Regions from separate parts of the Homo sapiens genome. Here region 1 is linked to region 2. Evidence: fine-mapped QTL for protein levels in blood plasma. Region 2 holds a variant in brackets. A gene starts in the other region. All regions are shown on their forward strands.

Region 1 (2,846 bases), not on the chromosome of region 2:
GAGTGTGGACAGAGAGGGTGGGAATGACGTTCCCTGTGGGAAGAGAGGGTGGGCAAGCCTGGGATGCCTCTGAGCGGGAATCCAGCATGCCTTGTGAGGAGGGTCACAAGCACACCCTTGTGAGGAGGTTGAGCCCCATCGAGGACAGGACGGAGGGAGCCTGAGCAGGCAGAGAGGGGGCCTGGGGAGGCGCTGGTTCGGGGAGGAAGTGGGTAGGGGAGAAATCTTGACATCAACACCCAACAGGCAAATGCCGTGGCCTCTGCTGTGGGGGTTTCTGGAGGACTTCTAGGAAAACGAGGGAAGAGCAGGAAAAGGCGACATGGCTGCAGGGGCCAAGCCCAGGAGCCGCCCTCCACAGCACTCATTCTGCAGAAGGGAAATTTGAGGCCCCCAGACGGCAGGGGTTGATCCTGCAGAGACTGGTGAGCAAAGGGGATCACCCCAAGCCCCAGTGGCACTAGGAACACTTACAATCTCTGACCTGGACTAAGGCTGCCAGCCTGGCCCAGTTAAGAGTTTCCCAGAAGGATGGCCCATACACTTTAAATTAAAGGGGCCAGACACGTGCACACTACTTCCAGCCACTCTGGAAGCTGAGGTGGGGGGATCGCTTGAGTCTGGGAGTTGGAGGCCAGCCTAGGCAGGCAACATAGTGAGACCCCATCTCCAAAAAAACAAAACAAAACAAAACAAAAAAACACCAAAAAAGCTCCCAGAAAGACCTCTGAATCTTTCTGGATCTCTCAGTGGAGACCTGGAAATCTGAACTTTGACAATCCCTCTCACAGTGGGGCCAAGGAGGAATTAGGCAAGCCAAAAGAAGTGAACTTTACTCTTCTATTGCCTGTTTGAATTTTGTATCCAAGCAAGTGTTACTTAAGTAATTTAAGAGACTGGTTCATCGAAAAAATAAAACTCCCCAAATTCCCATAGCTGGTAGACTGTGGTCACAGCCACAGTGCACTAAGACTATCTGCTCAGCACTTCTGGTGACCCAAAAGGGTCTGAGGACAGGAGCTCAGAGTTGGGTCAGCTGTCCAGGTACTCAGGGTTGTCACAGGCAAAACTGCTGGAACTCAGGGCAGCATTGCAAATGCCACGCCGCTCTCAGGGCCCCTTGCCTGCCGCTGGAATTAAACCCACCCAGATCTTGGAAACTCTGCCCTGGACCCTTCTCAATAAGTCCATGAGAAATCAAACTCTTTCCTTTATGCGACACTGGATTTTCCACAAAGTAAAATCAAGATGAGTAAAGATGTGGTTTCTAGATAGTGCCTGAAAAAGCAGAGACCATGGTGTCAGGCGTCACCACTTGGGCCTATAAAAGCTGCCACAAGACGCCAAGGCCACAAGCCACCCAGCCTATGCATCCGCTCCTCAATCCTCTCCTGTTGGCACTGGGCCTCATGGCGCTTTTGTTGACCACGGTCATTGCTCTCACTTGCCTTGGCGGCTTTGCCTCCCCAGGCCCTGTGCCTCCCTCTACAGCCCTCAGGGAGCTCATTGAGGAGCTGGTCAACATCACCCAGAACCAGAAGGTGAGTGTCGGCTAGCCAGGGTCCTAGCTATGAGGGCTCCAGGGTGGGTGATTCCCAAGATGAGGTCATGAGCAGGCTGGGCCTGGTCCTAAGATGCCTGTAGGTCAGGAAAAATCTCCATGGACCAAGGCCCGGCCCAGCCATGAGGGAGAGAGGAGCTGGGCTGGGGGGCTCAGCACTGTGGATGGACCTATGGAGGTGTCTGGCAGACTCCCCAGGGACTACCTGCTCTCCTGGCCTGGCCTTGTCTGCCACTGCCAGCTCCTACTCAGCCATTCCTGAACAGAGGACAGCAGAGAAGGGCCAGCACCCTCCCAGAACCATGTGGCATTTGCCAACTGGATTTTGACCATAACAATGCAGCCATTCTCCCCAGCACCATCATAGGCCCGCCCTTACAGGAGGATTCCTTAGTAGAGTCCGCTCCTTGCCCCACTAGTAACAGCTCACATGTCTGAGCACTGCTTACACCAGGCCTGGTGCACGTGCTTTATGTGTCATTTCATCACTGCCAGCCACCTCAAGAGGCAGGTACGATGAACCCATTCTGCTAAGGTTCAGTGAGGTTAAGTGACAGAGGCTGGATTCAAGCCAGGCCTGGCCAACACCAGAGTGTCCATGCTCCTAACTGCAGTGTTCCCTCACCATCAGAAGGCAGGGCATTTAATACACCAGATCCCCACCGCCTCCCATCTGATTTGTCTTGGTCAACAGTGGCCCAGGCCACTCCTACTTCACTCGTCCCCACCCTGGCCCTTCCCGCAGGCCCCTGTCCTCCTGCCCTGACTATGGCAAGCCTTGCATGCAGCTTGTCCCTTACTAGTGGTGTCAATTTTTTTCTCTCAGCTCCAAGACCCTAAACAGTGGGACCTCACCCCTATGCCTGCTGTTCAAAGCAGAAAACGAAGCTCAGGAATGCTGAGGGGCTGCCAGGCCTGCCTCTGTGCCACACCAGGGATGCTTGTGGGGCCTGTGCTGGGGCAGACCTGGCCTGGGCTGCCAGGGCAGGCCCACAACCCCTGCCAGCACTCTGCTCACTGTCACTTTGCTCCCACAGGCTCCGCTCTGCAATGGCAGCATGGTATGGAGCATCAACCTGACAGCTGGCATGGTAAGGACCTTTGGGTGCAGGGAGGATGGGGCAGAGGCTCCAGGCCTTGGGCTTATCTTCTCTGAGCCTCCCTTCCATGGCTGGGGTTCCAAGCAAGCTTCAAGTGCTCTCCTCCCTCCCGCCATAATCTGGCCCCTTCCCGCCCACCACCCAGACTCACCTGCGCCAGGCATCTCAGCCCCATCTTCCTGCAG
Region 2 (2,924 bases):
ACTCTGATAATTGTGGCATCCATAAATTGCAAATATAGCCCTGAATAGATACACACAAATATCTATAATGAAGGCCCAGCAGAATGGAATGTGTTACCATCTTCAGGAAGAAAATAATGAATACATGAGTACAAGAAAATAAATTACAAATTAAAGTCAAACTGGAATTCTATATATATTAAAAATTTCATTTAAAGCGAAAGTCAAATGAATACCCTGTAAGACAAATCGATTCTGAGAAAATTTATTGCTAGTGCATTCATCCTTCAGTAGGTGCTTTGGCAAATTTTCCGCCAGGGTGAGTAGCCATATGATATACATCCGAAACATGAATCTATCCAAATAAAAAATGTGGTCAAGAATGAAAAAATGAAGTTGAAATGTAGTTTTTATATTTTTAATTGTTCTAATATATGTCTATGTAATGATAAAAATGCACATATTATATTTTATAGCACATATAAGTGCAAACTGAGAATAAACTAAGACAACGGATGAGAAAGAGGGTTTAGAAGAATAAGTTATAATAGCTCTACAACCTATGAAGAGGTTTTACGTTATTTGAATTAGAATCTGATTATACACAATTCTTATTGTATATCTTAGGGCCAATACAATATTCATAAAAGATGAGCTAAACAATAAGTTAATAGAGAAATAAACATGATCATAAAATGCCAAATTAAAATAGAAATTAACAGAAAAATAGTAATACCAGTTTTAAAATAGAATTTATTATAGTTGATTTAAAAAGCAAGACCCAACTACTAGCTCTGTACAGAAATTTGCTCTACATAGAAAAGTTAAATACAGGAAAACATGGACTATGAAAATATGAATGAAAAGAAAGCGTGCTTAGCTATGTTAAATTCAGACAAGGTAGACATAAGACTTTCAGGAATCAAGGGGCATATTACATAGGGTAAAGGGATCAGTTTTCTAAAAGGCATCACCAAAGATTTAACCAATGGATCTGGGATAGAAAATAGGCTAACATCTATAACAGATAGCGAATTCGACACTTACTGTGATTGACAAAACAAACGTGATAAAATAGGTAAATATATAAGTGACCAGAATCAACTTATTTGACTAGTTTCATTTATAGAATATTCAATGGGAAGACAGCAGGAACCCAAACTGTGATTAACCAGAAGATATGAGAGGAACATGGTGACTGAATTTGATGTGGTTACCTGGGTTGAACAAAGAAACAAACAAAAAGCAATAGGAAAGTGAGACCTTATCTCAAAAAGAAAAGAAAAAGGAAAAAAGGAAACTGTTAAAAATTGGCAAAATTCAAATAAATCCCAGAGCTGAATAAACAGAAACTTATCAATGTAAATATATTAGTCCCATGTCCCATGTTTTTTTTGACATATTAACTTTAGTGAAAACTTGGAGATGGATGTGAACACACTGTATTTTCCTTACAATTGTTCTGATAACCTATAATTATTCCAAATAAAAAGTGTGTAAAATATAAAGTAACAATCATAAAAATAATAGTTCAAAGACCTTATAAAATAGGCTTCTGAAAATAA[TAAA/T]ATTGTTACTAAAATTATTATGGATAATTATTTCAGAGGATAATCCTGAAATGATCATCGAAGTGGTGGACAGATGTTTATTTATTTCAGAAAAAGATGTGAGGCATCTCATATTAAACGCTAGTGATGGAAGTGTTTATAGAGTTGTTTTATCATCTATAATATGATGGATGAAAAGCATTATCATAAGCATTTGATGGATGAAAAGCATTACTATCATAAGCATTTATGTAGCCAATATCATGAACGTATTATAATTTCCTCAGTTGTGCACCATTTTTGTGTTAATACCATGTGAACGTTTTCTACTGCATGTGTCATATCTAAACATTTGAACTAGTTTGTTTGTTATTAATGTGACTCTTGTAAATGCTGTAGGCATTGCTGATGTTCTCTGTAATTTCTCTACTGGTGTTTTTTTCCTAATATTTTAACATGATAAATTTGGATTAATATAACTACGTAATTTAATAATATATTTTAAACTTCATAGTTGTACACACAGACACACACACACACGCACACATACACAACAGCCCAGCAATGACACATATACCCGTCCATGCAAAAATGAATGTATATTAAACACCAAAACAACACACCCATTTTTTTCTATATTATTTTAATTATTTAATTGAATGTAACTCGTATTTGCAGTTTCATTTTTGAATGAATGTAAATGCCATTCTTGCCAAATATATTACTTAAGTGTACAATGGTATTTACTTTTTTTTTTTTTTGAGACAGAGTTTTGGTCTTGTCGCCCAGGCTGGAGTGCAATGGCGTGTTCTCGGCTCACCGCAACCTCCGCCTCCCAGGTTCAAGCGATTCTCCTGCCTCAGCTTCCCCGCCACGCCCAGCTAATTTTGTATTTTTAGTAGAGAGGGGGTTTCTCCATGTTGGTCAGGCTGGTCTCGAATTCCCGACCTCAGGTGATCCACCCACCTCACCCTCCCAAAGTGCTGAGATTACAGGCGTGAGCCACTGCGCCCAGCCAGTATTTACTTTTTAAATATCAGTCAGTTATTAATAAATTGAATAACTAATAAGACAAACATCACTTAAATTTTTATTAAATCATTGATTAAAGTAACATTGTATTTTTTTAAACTAGGCAGGATAGAACTTTTCTATTTGAAAAATTTTTTAAAAAACTTTTTGGCGTTAATTTTCAATACAAACTCTAGTCGTTATTTGCCAATATGCCTTTATAATAAAGAACATCCAGCAATAGGAAACTGAAAGCAGCCCATGCTTTGCAGGATTCAATCACAATGGCAGCTTGCTGGAGGGTGGTCTGAGACTGGGCAAACACATTAGGGATTTGGACTTCATGAAAGCACTACTGAGCCCCTGGGCTGAGCACACAGAGGGTAG

Alleles and levels. Positions count from the first base shown, and alleles are read on the strand shown. Strength reflects both the effect of a copy and how common the allele is.
For the plasma level of the protein whose gene starts at base 1,354 in region 1, allele T in region 2 goes with a higher level than allele TAAA (strong association).

The links. PIP is the chance, under the fine-mapping model, that this variant and not a neighbour inherited with it causes the effect. The UK Biobank Pharma Proteomics Project read protein levels with antibody pairs (Olink). The fine-mapping took linkage between variants from a reference panel, not from the people measured, so its PIPs are less certain.
Region 1: it holds the start of IL13, and the variant in region 2 is fine-mapped to the plasma level of the IL13 protein (UK Biobank, PIP above 0.99).

Annotation. Positions count from the first base shown.
Region 1 is chr5:132,656,820-132,659,665 of GRCh38, forward strand. IL13 (interleukin 13) reads left to right here and starts at 1,354. Exons shown (of 4, transcript NM_002188.3): 1 at 1,354-1,541; 2 at 2,599-2,652. The coding sequence starts at 1,368. RefSeq lists a silencer at 79-138.
Region 2 is chr14:105,995,693-105,998,616 of GRCh38, forward strand. It overlaps IGH. Among named protein-coding and RNA genes, the nearest start is that of FAM30A, 79 kb to the left of the region's middle. The variant TAAA/T (reference allele first, on the strand shown) is at 1,545.